Regions from separate parts of the Homo sapiens genome. Here region 2 is linked to region 1. The links come from fine-mapping of genetic effects on gene expression. Tissue or cell type: liver. Region 1 holds a variant in brackets; the other region holds the start of a gene. All regions are shown on one strand. Distances are between the middles of the regions.

Region 1 (8,342 bases):
TAATACTTGCAAATGCTCTATGTTTATCCTGTTTGAGATGGCTTGTGCTTCTTGAATGGGAGGATTCATGATTTTTAAAAATTTCAGAAAATTCTCAGCCATCATATCTTCAGTTATTGGTTCTTCCTGATTTCTCTGGTCTCTCCCTATGGGAGTCCTATTACACAGACGTTGGGCCTTCTCATTATATTCTCCATATCTCTTTATCTCTCAGATATTTTTCAACTCTTTATCCTTTTGTGCTTTATTTGTGTAGTGTCGTGAGATCTACGTTTCTTGCTTTACTAGTATCTATTTAACCTGTCCTTTGAGTTTTTAATTTTAGTGGATCTATGGAGAGGAGTAGTCATCATGTCTTGTTCTTTTTAAGGGTTTCAATTTTAGCTTCAGTGTTTTAAATCCTTATAAACTTTCTCATTCCATGTTTCTTTTCAGAATGTCAATTGTTTTATGACCTGTAATTCTTGAGCCTCTTATTCTTTTATTTGTTGACTTGTAACATCAGTTTCTTGGATGTTGTATAATTTACCGTTGGGATCTCATGCTTGTGGGATTGGTTGTAGCCTGGGTTGTAGAAGTGGCCAGAGAAATCTTCATTTGTTTCTATAAGGCATTCCTGGCATGTCACGAACAGGACTAATTTTAATATTAATTTTTTTAGTCAGAGCTTCCTGATTTTGACTTTTGTTATTCCTAGAATCTCATGAAAGGCACAGCCCTAGGATTTCTCATTCTCAGTTAAAACATTTCCCTCTCACCCACAATACAGGTAGAGACAGACAAGTTTTACCTAGGTGGTTGTCAATTTTTCCAATCTATTTGTTCATTGAAGGTGCAGCCCTCAGTGAATATTTTTGGCTTTCTACAAAGGTCTTGTAACAGCTTCCTGCTTCTCTTTGTCCCAAGGCACTGTCTGTCTCCTGTGTGGGCATTACAATCCTAGCCCCTAGGGAACCAAGACAACCCTTTTGTCTGCCACCAACCACTCTTCCCTCTCTCTCATAGCCACAGCATAACTTTGCATGCTTCTTACTCTTGTTTTTAATTACCTCTTTATTTCTTGGTATTTTCCTGTGGTTTTTTTTTTGTTTTTTTTGTTTTTTTTTGTTTTATGTAAGGTCTCATGCTGTCACCCAGGTTGAAGTAGATTGGTGCCCTCATGGCTCAATGTGGCCCTGAATTCCTGGGCCGAACCAACCACCTCAGCCTCCTAAGTAGCTAGGACTACAGGTGCACACCACTGCAACCAGTTAGTTTTTTATTTTGTGTAGAGATGGTGTCTTGCTATGTTGCCAAGTCTGATATTGAACTCACGGCTTCAATGATCCTCCTGGTGTGGCCTTCCAAAGTGTTGGGATTACAGGTGTGAGCCATCGTGCCCAGCCTTCCTTTCTTTATTGTGAGTCAGCTAGGCATTTAAAATAATTTTTGTTATATTTTATCTAGCATGTCTAGGTATTTGAAGAGTTGGAATTTTCAGGTTGTCATCATTTGCCATTTTGCCAGAACCAGGACCTTGTTACAAGCTCATGGTAAAAGGTTCAAATAATATACAAGGACATATGATGAAACGTTAGTGTCCTTATCCTCTTAGATCTGCCTAGGCCTCAAATCACCTTGTCAGTAACAACAACCTTTATCATTTTCTTAGGCATGGTTCTAGAAGTACTTTTTGCATATACAGCATATGTATGTGCACATACGTAATACATGAAGATGTTTTGTGCAAGCAGAAATATGTTTTACTATCTGCACTGTACTTAGCAATGTATTGAGGAGCTCAGTGCATACTGGTGCACTTAGTTCTTCCTCTTCTTTCTCATGACTGTATAGTATTCTATCATATGGATGTATCATAATTTACTAACGTCCTGTATTATTGGATAATTATGTTTTCAGTTATTTTGATCTTATAAACTATCCTACAATAAACATTCCTTTACATATGTCTTTGCTTGTATATCATTTAGCATAATTCACTTCGTCTGTTTCCTTCTCTCCCCTCCTCCGCCTGCCACCACTATGGGTTACTTGTGGTCAAGGACTTTATCTTTCATTGATGATCCTAGTACCTGGCATGGGGCCTGGCACTGAGCTGGCACTTAACTCACGTTTGTTTCATTAATAACTGTGCTCACTACAAAGTCAGATCAGCAGTCAGACTCAGTCCAAATCTCCAGCAAATGTATTTTAATTGCAGTGATAACAACAGCTATTGACTGTTCAGTTGTCCGAGGTTATTGACTGAGTGCCTCCTCTGGACTAAACATGAGCTCATGCAATCTTTACTACAACCCTATGAGATGGTAAATTTCATGATCATGCTTTACAGACAAGGAAACTAAAATGCAGGTTACCTACCTGTAAGAGGGAGAGTCCATATATGAACACAGTTTTGTGTGAAATTAATGCCTGGCCTTTTGACTACTCTCTTAATTAACAATTGTACTGGCATAGCCAACATGGGACATATTTCCATTGTTCATTCTTTTGTGTATTCATTCATTCAATCAATAAACAAACATTTACTGAGAGCTCACGACGTTCCAGGTAGGGAGTGATATGTCTTGATAAAAACATTCCTACCTAGGTAGAATTTACAGTGTAAAGGGAGTGACAGATTAAGCAAAAAAGTGAAAATGTGATGAGTGGCTGAAAAGAGACATAAGCAAAGGCTTTAGGAGCACCAAGAGCAGAGAGCCACGAAGGCCTCCAGTGTCTGTGATAAACTGGATGAGCCTTGAAGGACAGCAGTGGGTTGAGGGGGGCACAGGAGGGGTGAAGCCTAGGATTCCAGCATGCCCCCTGTTCCTTGTGTGCGTGGCACAGTCGAATCTTTCTCTTCCAGCCACTGCCAGCTCTCAGGACCTCTGGTGTGAGGGCCAGAGAGCCTGTGTCCTTCTGCTTTTGAAAGGTGGCTCAGCACTCCATTAGCCCTTTCTAATTTTAAAGTAGTAGCTCCCTTGATTGAAATCTCAATTTGGGAACAGGCCTAGGATTGGCCTGTGGCTCGAGATTTTCACCAATAAGCTGAGTGGGAGGTGGGGAGGTGTCCCTTTAAGCAGCCGGGAGGCAGCCCAGAGAGCTTGGAGCTCCTCTCCCCAGGACCTGAGCGATTTTCCTGGATCCGGAGCTGCGCACAGAGCAGCTGCCGCCCCAGGAATGTTACCTGCCTTGTGCGGAGCCCCTGCAGGGCCCCCTTCGGCTCCGGGCAGTTGGCTGCCGACGCCCCGCTGGGTTCCTTAGCTGCGGCCGCTACCCCTGCCCCTGGGTCTCCAACCCCCTTTCCCCGGCTCCCCCGCAGTTTCCCGGGCCGGCAGAGGCGCCGCAGCGTCGGAGCAATGCAAGGCTAAGCCGGGTAAGTGGCCCCCCCATAGCCGGGGAGCACAGAGGGCGGCGCAGGGGCATGTTTGCTCCTGGTTTCAGGAGCTCCCCTGAAAAAGGGGCCTTGCAGCTGGAAACTAAGCTCTGGGAGAGATGCGCTTTGCCACCCAGACGCTGGGAAGTCAGGAGCCCCGCGGTGGGGACCTGGTGAACTGAGGGTCTGAGTGTCAGCCACCTTTCGCGCAGCCACTTTATTAACCAGCAATGGTAATCATAATATCACGAGGCGATGGTGGTATTATTGTATTAGGACTACTTAAGAGGGAACATGAAAACATCCCTGGACTTGCTTTTTAAATAGCCTTTATTCTCTTAGAATTCATTTTCCCCTAAATATTTAAAAGGTATTTACTGTTAATGACCTAGTTATTTTCTATTCAAAATATTTCTTAACATCTCCAGGAAGATCTACTTTAAAACATGACTTACTTCTTCCCACATACCTTTATATTTTGAGCTTATATCCCCGAAAAGATAAAAGTTGTTTATTTTCCCAGAACTTTAAAAATCCATTTCTTTGCTTCTTGGTGGACTTCGGTAATGAAGCAACTCTGGATTTGTTAATGTGTTCTTTCTGAATTGGGGTAGGTGGAGAGGGCCCTTCTCCTAGCCCTTCCTAGCTCTACATGGGGGAGTGTATAGTTTGGAGATGAGAGAGTTAATTCTTACTTTCCAAGTTGCCAAATGCACCCTCTCAGATGCTGGAAGAGTCAGGACTTGGTGAAGGTTGGGATTACAAATCTGG[A/G]GTGCCTGGGCAGCCGTGCCCTGGGAAATTTTAAAACCAAAATAATCAGGAAAGATTGTGGGTAGGTGCTGGGTAAGATTTAAAAGATGAGGTTTCAGCTCCCCCCACCCATCTGTTCACTTGTGTGTACCTAAGCAAGAGGTTGAGAATCGAATGCAGAGGGTCAGTTTACTTTTTTTTTTTTTTAAGATGAGGCAGCTGGAAGACATGCCTTCCAAAATTGGAGCAGAGTCTGATGTGTGGATTGCCAAATTCCATTTCCGCCCATATTAAATTATTTTGGCTTCTAGAAGCCCTTATTTTGCTGGGCCGGCCTTTATTTGCAGTTGTTTAGGTGGTGTGAATCATTTGTATACTTTGAGTTCCCTGCTTTCTGTACGCAAATGTTTTTATCTGTGCAGCTAGTTGAGTAATTAGAGACATGGACATGGCCCTGTCTGTACAGACAGAACAAATACCACTTGGGGAAGATCTGGGCCTTTCCTTTTCAAATCATCAATTGCCAAATCTTCCCAGCCTGTTGGGCAATTCAGATAAAGGTGTCAAGTGAGCTGGGCAGTGAAGAATTTATATATGCAGCTGATTCTGCTCATCCTACAATAAAGCATCTTCCCATGGGGCCAAAAAGTGGGGGTTAGGGAGGCATATAAAAATGATCCTGTGTTCTTAGTCACTGACTACCCAGCTCTCTCTGGATTTCTGAGAACCTGCCAGGAGAAACTGTTGACTGGATGGAAGTTTCAAGAAATGCAGAACAGAAATCAGGACAAGCCCTCCTTGAGCAACTTTTATTTCTGTTTGGAGGAAAGGAACACTTTGTTAGAATAACAAATTGTGGCTGCTTTTCAAGACCAGAAAACCGTTCTTCTTCTGAAGGCAGATTCGTTTTAAGAGTGTGAATCATTTGGTTTAGCTTTTTTTTTTTTCTTTTGCGGTGGAGGCTTGGAGATGATTAAACGTCCTGTCTGCAGGAAATTACCAGGAGATTTGAGTATTTTCCTGAATCAGCCTCAGATGGTACACAGCTTTGGGTGTAATACAAGAAAGCTCTGTTACAAGGCAGTCTTTCCTCAGTGATACCCTCAATCTCACACAGGCTTTCAAGCCTCTGCATCAACAAGCCTTTTATTTTTTATTTTCGGGGTTGTACTTCCATTTAAGAAACTGAAATAACTCTCTCATTCCCTCTGTGAGCTTAAGATGGAACTTATTTTTGAGACAGTTTTATCGAGCCCACTTCCCCACTAGCCTCCTCCCACTTAGCTTCAACAGGAAAAACTCTTGGCTTCTTTTCCCAAGATTTCTTTTAAGCCAGAATTGTTATCCTTAGGGACACAGATGTGTCGAGGAATGAGAGGTGCAAAGGTTTGAACTAGCACTCACCAATTTGGTGGTGACATTTATGGTCTTTGTGGAGCTGTTTGCAGAGCAGGCTAAGTGGTCTTGTGTTGGGTTTGCCCTGAAGTACATCAACAATATAGAAAATGGGCAATGAAAAGACGGTAAGAGGCAACTGAGGGACATGCGTGCTGCTTTGTGTAGCTGTGTATGCAGAGATCTGTGGGTTTTTAAAAATAATTTAGAAAACCAAATCTCAGAGATGCTGTGCTCCCCAGGCTGTTTTTCTTAATCTTTCCTGAAAAGTACTCAGTCACATTAAGCACTTCCTATCACTATCATAAAGTAGGAGAGCGCTAGGTGAATATAAACTCTGTGCGATATTCTGATGTCAATGAGAGGAAGCAGAGGGAATGATTTTTTTTAGCTACTAAAACACAGAATGGTAATCCTAGTTGAATATAATGAGACTTTATGGAAATTGTATTGAGGTTTAAATGTGATGTTCCAAAAAAGTTTCTTTGATATTTTTTATTTTCTCAAAATCTGAATGGTGAGGAATTCTTTTCTGGGATACTTAGCATTTGATTGCCATTCAGTTTTTTTTGTTTGTTTGTTTTTTGTTTTTCTTTTTGCTTTGTTTTGTTTTGTTGGTGATGTTTTTTCATATCCTGCTCCTCTGTGTGACCAGCAAAGGAAGGCTCATTTTTGCAAAGATTGTAATCTGGACAACTTCCAGAAGAATGGAAGATGTAGGGGTAGCGGAGGGAACAGACGCAGGTACTGTGGGACTCAATGTCTGGGAAAACTCATGAATGATCTCCCTGCAAGATTAGCCCAGAGGCCTTTGAGAATTGCTTCATATTTGACTTTTAACAGCCAGCCTGTGTAGAGAAATCCTTGTACCTATCACTAGGGTCTCTCCCTCTTCACAAAGCATCTTCCCAGGCAAGATGCCAATCCACAGGGAGCGTATACGTGACATTGCTTATCACATCTTTCAAAGGTTGCTTCTTACTACTTTTTCTTTAAAACAGCTACTATTTGATCTCTTGGGAACATTTGCAAAAGGTTACTCTGCATTCACCCAGGCTGCTGTAATTAGTCACTGGTTTTGTTTTATATTTTCTGATGATTGAGGCTCTGTTCAGGCTTCTGGGGATAAGCAAACATCTGTTGAGTTGGATGTTAGATAAATTCTAATTTTGAACACTAAGTTGTCCAGGCTGGAGAAGAGGTCTCATCTTGCCATATTATAAATGATAACATCAGTAAACAGAATGATGCCTGTTAACTTACTGAGCTTTTGCCAAGCACAGACTTAACGTCTTACCAGTCTTTCTCAGACTTTATAGTGCATAGGGATATCCTTCAGGGAGTCTATTTCATAGGTCTGTAGTATGACCTGGAAATCTGCATTTAAGAAATATCCAGGTGGAACTCTGGACTTTATCTTGAGAAGCACGTCGCTGTTTGCTCTTTATTACTGAAAAACCCTTACGACAACCCTATGAGGGTTGGTGCCATCAGCCAGCCTATTTCACAGATGATGAAGGATAAGCTCAAAGAGGTTTGGTAACTCCCCTGAGACACAAGGCTACCAAGTGGCCATGCGGGGGACCTGGACCTACAACTGTCTAATTCCAAGCATCTACCTGGGATGCTTCTTAAATGCAGCCTGTGCTCTCAAGCATTTGCTCTTGGTGGATTGTTGGCGGGTTGTGGAGTGGGGGGTGGGGTGGGCGGTCTTCTCTTTATAATTTATACTCAGTAACCACCCTTCCCACTGCCCTGCCGCCACTCTGCCGAAGCCTGCTTCTCTAGGATGCTGGCATTCTGTAGACAGCAGTCCATGAGGTCCCCATTTAGACAATCCACTGTGATGGAATTGAGGGAGACCACATGGGGCAGAGGCCCTCGTGGCAACAACTTGAGGAGTGTTCAGCTCATTTGCCTTGGGTTCTTTAAGTTCTGAACCAAGATGACCCAAGATAAGGCTGATTGACTGTGAAGTGCTTTTAATTCCTGCAGCTTTTGGAATTCTTAAGACAGTTATGTTTCCATCAAGGGCCCTTTCTACCTGGATGTAGGTGCCACTTTCTTGCCTCCAATCCATAATGCCTCCCACAGGATCCTTTCACAAGACCTCACCCTACACAGCCCCAGAAAGTTGAAGCCATTTCCTAATGCTCAAGGCCTGAGCTCACTTGCAGCCCTTCCTGCATTCTCTGTATATCCCCCCATTCTGAGTGTAATCCTGTGGAAAGTGAACTCAAAGGGAATATTGTAAAGAGGAGAGGCAGAGACTGAACAAAGCCTCATTTAAGCTTCTTGCCTGATTCTCCCTTGGCCTGACCTGATTTCTCCTAGTCTTTGGGGCACATGGACCAGGAATGATTTTTCTTGCTTAATTGCTGCAGAATTGTGGATACAGGACAGACCACTTAACCTCATGAGCTTCAGCTTCATTATCTGTAAAATGGTATGTTCATGTCGACCCTTTCTCCTTCGGGTACAAGTGATGTAATGTCCAAGAAGGCACTTTGGACTTTGTTTAAACACATTTTGAAAACTTACTCATGTTGCCTTCTAGCAGTGGTTCTCTTACTGTGATATTGGGAATACCTGTTTGGTGAATTGCTCTTCTAAAAAAGAAAACAAAAAAAGGCGCCATGTGTGCGTGGAACATACGATGTTTTACATCTCCCTCTTGAGCCATCACAATTCAAAGGCTATGAGAAGGCCTGGAGTAGAGAAACCCATTGAGGCTTGATGTTGCATGTTCTGTGCTAATGTGACCCTGGAACCCCCTTTCAGCCTCACCTCTTAATGTGCCACAGAACACACTTGGGGGAAGCTGTTAAACTTCAAAACG
Region 2 (8,342 bases), 42 kb after region 1:
AAGAAAGATTTTAAATGACCTAAAGAGGAATTTAGGACCCTCTTTAGGTCGTTTAAATCCATTCCTTCTTATTTTATACCTGTAGAAACAGAGATTTAAAACTTGTTCATTGCAGCCTTCCTCATTACAGCTCTTCATCTAGGAGGCTACCACCCTTCCTGTCACTTACCCTTCCCTTCTGTAACCTGACCAGTAGAGATGTACTTGACCTTTCCCTGTAATCCTCTAACAAGATGCTGCCTAAAGCTGGCTAGAATGGAAAGATGATTTGATTTTCCAGCATGCATGGAGCTGTCTCTTTGTTATTACCTGCCAGTGTCATGTTGCTGCTGTTTTGCTGTCTTGTGTCCATGCAGATGTCTCTTAATTATGCATTTGTGTTCATAATTTTCCTTCCTACTCATGTTCTTATTCCTGCCTGGAACACCTCTAGCAGAAGGTGAATTTGACTAAGGTCAAATTTTTGCAGCCTTTTTCTACTTCTGGATTTTGTGTCATGCTTAGTAAGGCCTTCCCCCACTATAAAATTGTTTTTTAATTCCAAAAAAGTAAAAGCGTTTTTGACCTTGGGCCTGACCCAGATCATACTTTTCCTGGTTCCTGATCACCTCTGCCATAATTAATTTTGTCTTCCTTGTCCTTTTTCCTATATACTATATGCAATTATGGTCATTTGTATAAATATCCTATCATTCTACCTAAACAGAAAGTTCTGAAGGTCGACAGTTGCATCCTTGTCTCCTGACAAGAGTGTCCTCCGCTTCACAAATCCCTAATAAACATTTGGTTGAGTTTCTCATATGTATTACCTGTTCTTCCCTGCCTTTACTCGCATGAAGTTTGCTGTCATGAATGTGGAATTTCACTGTTTTTTAGAAAAACAATATGAGTTTTGTTCCTATTTACTAAGTCTCTGAAATTTTTAAAGTAGTTTTTTCTCACTTTTTCTAATACCTACCAGTATAATTTGTAAAAAAAAAAACACCTCATTAGAATGGTCTCCAGGATGAAAATAATGACCACAGGGAATTAACAATCTGTGGATTTTGTAATTTTAATATTCTGTGTAAGTGTGATGCATAGATATCCAGCTTCCTCATCACCAAGCTGAGCTCACAGAGCGTGTGCTGGCAAAAGGACTTGGGCAGCATGCTTTTGTGCCATCCCTCTCTTGAATGCAATTAGGCCTTTGAGGACTCTGCATGCCTCCTGCCATAACACACACCCCATTCTACTCTAATTGCCTACTTAATTGTCTTCTCTCTGATTGCCAAGCTCTTTTAAGGCAGGATCCATGTGTATCTTGGTCACCATGTTGTCCCCAGACCCTAGCACAGTGACTGGCAAATAGTAGGAGCTTATTTAATGAGTGAATGGATATATGAATGAATGGGTGAAGCATGTATTCATCTCAAAAATATAGTTGTCTTGTCCTGGTGTATAGTTTCAGAAGAGGGAGCCCGCCTCTTGGTCATTTTTACTCCTTTATTTCCTAGATTCATAGCAGTTCAAAGCATTTGTATTGTATCATATGGAAAATGGCATATCAGTGGCTCACCCACATTAGATAGAACTTTGAGATATGCTCTAGGAATAAAGATGATTTTGCAGTCTTCCCTTTACCGCTTTCTCCCCACCTTTTGAATTTTAACTGGTTACTTAACTAATTTGCGCTGAAGTTAATGGTGGAAGCATGATTGTTTCTATTAATATTACCAATAGCTAACACTTATTGAGTGTTTGCTATGTAACAGGCTCAGTGTTAAATGATTCACATTAATGCTCATTGGATTCTCCCAATGGCCCCATGCAGGTAGGCACTATCATTATGCCCTAGGTTACATATAAGGACCTCAGGCCTCAAGTCATAGACCTAGCAAGTGTCACAGCCAGAGTCTGACCCCAGGCAATCCATTTTAGACTCCATGTTATGATGTTAATTCTTATGAAGTTGGTAGTGATGTGTCACATCTGTTCCAGGTGAAGAGTAATCTCTTGCTATGTTTCAGCTGTCTTCTTTATTTCATTGTTGATCACCTGTGAATTGCCTCTTATATGACCATGCTGATCATGAGTAGATGAGAGAGTAGTGTACCCATTTTTAAGAAACTGAGGCATGGAAAGTTGAAGTGACTTGTTCGTGGCCACACTGGGTTAGAATGTCACTGCTTCCACTTGGCTACTGGGGGCCCCAAACTGTTAGACTTGCTAATTGACTTTTTGAAGGATATTGAGGTCTGGGGAGACCATCTGCCTCCCTACACGCTCTGAGTTCTGTGTGATGGAAACTGAAGGCTGAGTGTTATTCATTTGCTTGTATTTTATTTCTCTTACTGAGAAGTTATTCCAGGTCTCATGATTTTCACCATGAAAGGTCTTCTGGGAACTAGAGAGAAGCATTCTGAAAGAAGTTATTAAGCATTATTAATACAATTACATACAACAAAAGACATAATTTAACTTCCCCACATCCAACAAAGAAATTCATTTGAAGCTTCAGGAACTGCAGCTGGAAGGGCAGAGCTCATCAGAGTGGGTTCCCCAGGCGGGGGAGTGTGGGCAAGGAGCCGTGCTAGCTGCTTTGTCCTTTGGGACACTTCTGTGCATGATGGAATATTCCTCCCTCCCAGCCTCCCCAACCTTTCCCTCACCCTTTACTTTCACTCACAGTGCTTCCTTATCACAGGCACAGAGTCCAGAATATTGCCTGGCTCTTGCCTCTCTCCTGGCCCGGGATACTGCACAGGCAGCATTGAAGGAATATATGATTTTAAACAATTAAAGATGACCATGGAAATACTCAGATGCTAGGAACAGTGATCAGCCTAGTAGATAGTATGCCTCGGTGAATTTTTCTAACTTCATTCAAAATATCAGAAATAGCTATTGAGTATGTGATATTGTGTTAATCTTCACCATAGTTCTATTCAATATTTTACTTTCTTTAATTGCAGTAGCCCATAAGGCCCTTGAAAGCAGAGACTGTGTTTATACCTAGCCTTTAGAGCTGTGCATGGCATAGAGTACGTGCTTAGTAAATATTTATTGAATGAGTGAATGGTACAGATGAGGTTATTGAAGATCCCACAAGTTAAGTTACTTGCCTAAGATCACACTGCTAGCAGGAAGGAAAGGCAGGATTTGAACACAGGGCTCTCCAAATGTATAGATTCCTTTCTTCCAGATTGCTTGGTTAGGCCGCCTAGTGGTGTATAAAAATGGAGCTCGGAGACCCCAAAGGTATTCAACAAAAGCTCTATCTGAGGTCTAGGAAATGTGGATTCTGACCCATCCTTGCTGAAATCCTGGTGTGACTTTAGAAAAGTCCTTTCTCCAGTTGTCTCCATTTTCTAATCTGTAAAATGAGGAGATGGAAGCAATGCTCTCTGAGGGTCTCAGGGTCTTCAGATGCCCTGGGAAGGTTTATGCTTTGTCTTCTTCTGCATGCAGTTGGAATTGGGGTAAGGGGTTAAAGGGCAGCTGACTGACTCACCACCCAAGCACGTGAGGAAAGGAGTCACTTGTGCTTTATTTCGAGGTGCACAAAAACTCAAAGGTGACATAGTCTCAGGCCAAAAAACAAGCAACACCCGAAAATGAAAGTTGAAGAGAGAAGAGAAAGAAAAAAAAAAAGGAGAGGCATTTTTGAAGGCTTGACACAGCATTTAATTAAAAAAAGAGTGCTCTGATTCCACTCCTAGGTTGGTGCAGCATATAATCTGAAACAGGCGCTCAGGTTGATAATTGTGCCCAGATCTGAACCTTGGCACCTAAGAGCACAGCTTTTAAGAAGAAAAAAAATAGGCATGTGTCTTTAAAGCCTCTCTTCTTATATGTGATTTTTTTCATGCTCATTTGGAGGTTACGTAGCTGGGCCTTTGCATCCAGCAAAGGCTTCCTTCCCCTCTCCCTGGCTTGGGGATTATTGATTTGGAAGGCAAGGCTAATTTACATGTAAATAAATCTCAGCACTGGGCAGCAGGATGGGACGTCCAGATGCCGTGACTGACTTGCTGACATCACAGCTTCATTAGCATGCGGAGGATGCAAGCACTGCAACAGCGACTTCTCAGGCACCACCAGCAGCGCCACCGAGAGTTATTATTATTTTTTGACCAAGCAGCACATTTCCTGGTTCAGTGGCTTGAGCTCTGTGAGCAGCTGACTAGTCACCCCGGGTCTGGCTCAGGATCAGCTGGTGACGCTGGGCTGGAGTCTATGACTTCTTCCTTCAGATTGTCATGAAGAAGGGGAGTTAAGAGGAAACTGGGGGTCCTCCGGAAGGCGATCTGAGCACTCAGGCTGATCTAGAGGAAGAGTAGAAGTCATACTTTTTTTCTCTTGCTTGGTGAATTCCCCAGCAGAGTCTGGATCCAGCAGTGCTGTTTTCCCTGAGGGAATGTGGAGCAGCTCGGCTTGAGTCTGTTGCCAGCTTCAGGAAGGGTTCAGACTGAAAAGGGGGTTTGAGGAGAAGATGCTTTGGCTGCCTGAGGTCCTGCTTGCGTTCTTAGAAGTCAGATCCAGGGAGAAAGTGAACTGGGACAATTGACAAGCTCCAAGGGTCTGGCAGAAGCTTCCTCCGAGACTGGGCATTTCATCCTCCCTGGAGGTGGGTAAGAAATTTGCTCTAATTCACAAATTAAACAGCAGTATATTTTCTAAGGAGGATGAGAAAGCCAGATCTAGGGCCTTTGCACTGGGGGAGGATATTGGGTCTTCGTTTTCTTGGCCAGGTAGCATTTTTGGTGGCCCTGCGACCCCTTTTGCCTTTTCTATGCTGATTAGAAAGCTCGATTACAAAGTGTTATGTCACAGCTCTAGGGAGTCCTGAAGAAACGCTTAAATCTTGATGCTTAAGAAGAAGCAGCGTTTCTCTAAAAGTGTAGCTTTCTTTAAAAAACCATAATAATATGGGGAAAGGGGCTAACAGACCAAATACCTGATAGCGTTCATGTACAGTAGTCATTTCAACACATGATGTCAGAAACCATTAGGGGATCTGAGGAACAAGGACTCAGCTGAGACTTCCAGGTAAAGAAATGGCTTTCAAATTATTTAGGTTTAATTTTAGACACTGCTTTCAGATTAGAAATGGTGACAGAGCTTCAGAATATGACTGCATAGCCTGGCTGAACACATGATTCGGTTTGCCCTCTATGCTGGGTTTCTTGAGGGAGTGATCATAGTTAGTTCTCCTCACTCTTGGCTTCTCGAAAACCAATCATAGCATTACTAATTTGCCATGGGGGTCTTGCAATGAAATACAGATTTTTAATCCCATGGTTTTTTGTTATGTGGTCTTGGACTATGCTGGGGTCCAGTGGGACTTTTATGAATCATAAATAATCCAGGCTGGGCCAAATCACACTGAGGTTAGCGATCCATACCAGATGTGATGCCATCCGCTGGTCCAAATGTGGCTCTTGTCTAACTTAGGCACATAGATTATTTCCCCAGTGAGAGAGTTCTGCTTCCCATATCAATGCATGTATGAGCACAGTCAGGGGAGGGCTCCAGTGTGCCATGAATATGTAGACATAGACTGCCGTGTACTGAATCTGCAGCTGGTAAGGCTGTGATTTGCTTTGCCTGCACATCTCTTCCCAAAGAGTGTTTTAAACCATCTCAGTGAGACTTAAACTAAATGAAGCAGCCTTGCCTCTTTGCTAGAGGCCAAATTGGCTGCTGTAATCCTGCTCCTCAGAAGGCTTACTGCCTGCTGATGGCTTTCACAGATGGGTCAGGATGAGGGTCCCCAAGGGCTCCAGAGTAAGTCACAACTTTGACATAATTACCATATTTTGGAAATTTGGATTTTAATGCCTTGAGTGCTTATAAAGGTTTTGCCTTTCCATCAAATGCTCCTTCCCCTTGGGAATTCTGTTTTTCATGTGAAAATTAAAACATACTGGCTCCATCGGGCATCTCAGTCTATAAAGATTCACGGGGCAGCCAGAAAGAGTAAAATAGCATTGTTTGAAATGGTGTGTTTATAAAGATTTACCCATGAAATGTGAGGGAATAAAATAGAAATAGAGGAAGAAAGATGCATTTATGGAAGCTTAAAGAATGAGAAGGGAACTTAGAGGTTAGATAGTATGAGATGATATTTATCCAGGGCTCAGACTCTGGAGCTGGAAAGAGCTGAAGATACTTAAAGCTACCCATTCCTGCCAGTAAAGTGGAGAGAGCAATGGAATCTATAGTTAGGGTGATAGGTGTAAGGATTTAATGAGATGACCTATGCAGAGCACAGTGGCAGCCACATAGTAAATATTCAGTAAATATTAGCTGCTATTGTTGTTGTTGTTGTTGTCATTGTTACCATTTTGTCATTATCATTATAAGTGTTGTTGCTAAAAAACAGTATTGAAAAGGCAACATGTTCACATCCATTTGCCTGCAGAAAGGTTTTGCTAGCAGAAAAGATGCCATCTCTGGTACTGTTATATCCAAATGATTCCCACTCAAAGAAACTTTCCACCCTATTGATTGAGTTGACAGAATAAAGTATATTATCCAGAACTACTGTATTTCACAGAACTGAAAGTGACCAGCTGGTATAATGAAAATCATTTAGAACTAACTGGGGCTTAGGCAGCCTTAAAGAAGGCATCCTGTTTTGGCAGCTGACAAGTCACATGTAGAAAGCTGCGGGGTCCCAGTTGGAATCAATGCATTTCTAGATTTCTCTTCTGCTTCACCTATGCATGTGAGAGACAGTCCTTTTCTTTCTTAATTCTTTTCAGTGCAGATATTGAGCATTTTCTTCTCTATCCAGGGAGGCCATTGAATATGTGCTTAACCTGCTGGTTGGCTCCTCAGAAGTTCCAAGGCTGAATTTTTGCCACCATCTGGGTGCCTTCAGCTTATGGGTTGGCTGCTAAGGGAAAGGAATAGCCCTCCCCTGCCTGCCTGCCTACCATGGCCCAGTCTGTCTGCTTTTGTTTTGTGTCACTGCTATGGCACAATTTTGCCAGGCTCGTGGTCTGCCTCCTTCATGCCGGTGGGCCTACTTCTGTCACACAAGTGGACTGCTGTTTCTCCCTTTCCTCCCAAGATCTTTCTTTTTAATTTTGGGGAATTAGAACTCTGACACAGGGATCTGAAAGACAAAAGTGAATTACAAGAGTGAGAGGAGTCTGCCATAAAATTCTTTCCCAAGAAACTCGGAACTGGGAGTTGGTCGTTCCTGGTTGCTACTGATCTTTAGTAGAGTTGTGTTTTGCACGGAGAATAATATTTATACCTTAACCACAGCCCACCTCCCTTACTTCCTGATGGGAGGTATGATCTCAGGAGAGTTGCCTGACCTCTCTGAACTTTGGCTTCCTCATATGAATATTGGAAATAAAGTCCCCTGAATGCATGGGATTGCTGTGAAGATAGCGGCTATAATGCCCTTGCCCAATTCCTGGTACTGACTGGATGTTGAGCATATTTCCCAGTTAATCCCGATCTGTGAACAACAGGGGGCAGTAATTTTAATATTTATTTAACGGAGAAACTGAAGGCCAATAGAATTAAATTAGAAATCAATAACAACAAGGTATTTGGGAAATCCAAGTAAAATGACATAGCAGATGACAAACCGTGGTACCCGTCTAGTGCTTCTTTTAATAAACATCAGTTCCAAACACTCTGAATTTGAGAAGGGCTCAATGACCCAACTGCACTGCCTGCCTCGAATTAGCAGAAACCTCTTTATTTAGTAGCCCCCAGGCTGTGGTCATTTCTTCTGTGCTGTCTGTAAGCACACAAGAGTCAAAAGGCTCTGTCCCTCAGATAGGAATTCTGGGTGGCAATTGGATAAAGACTTTCTTTTGTGCTTAAAGATCCACTGAAACCTTTCTCTGTTCATTCCCTCCATGACTGTGGTGCTTATAAACAGGGAACTGCTGGTGACCATGAGCTATTTGCAAACTAAGAAGCTTGAGGATGAGATATTGGCCAAATCTGTTTTCTTTGTTGATGCTTTTGAGTGACATTTGCCCCTTTGCTCTGTCTTAACCTGTAAACATTTAAAATGAAATGTTCTGGTTTTTATGCTGTGTGTGTGCGTGTGTGTGTGTGTGTGTGTGTGTGTGTGTGTGTGTGTATGAATCAAGCAGGGGTGAAGATCTCTTTTGGGGATTGAGTCAGTCGAGTTTGGAGACTTCGTTTTCTTTTTTCTTTGGCCTATTGTCTGAGCAGTTTATTATTTGGCATCTGAAAACCATAGGCTTGCTTGTTGTGTTATTTCCCTGGGGATAAGGCAGAGGAGAAAAAAGCAAGGCTGGAGAGAGGGGAGAGAGTGTGTGAGTTTGGATGGAGCTTTAAGAGGAGGGGAGGGAAAGGAAGAC

What was found.
Region 2: PRICKLE2 starts here. The variant in region 1 is fine-mapped to the expression of PRICKLE2 in liver (GTEx, PIP above 0.99).

The regions. Positions count from the first base shown.
Region 1 is chr3:64,262,915-64,271,256 of GRCh38, reverse strand. It overlaps a transcript of PRICKLE2 not described here. Among named protein-coding and RNA genes, the nearest start is that of PRICKLE2, 42 kb to the right of the region's middle. The variant A/G (reference allele first, on the strand shown) is at 4,130.
Region 2 is chr3:64,221,177-64,229,518 of GRCh38, reverse strand. It overlaps PRICKLE2 (prickle planar cell polarity protein 2), which reads left to right and starts at 4,053. Exons shown (of 8, transcript NM_198859.4): 1 at 4,053-4,609. RefSeq lists a silencer at 3,872-4,166.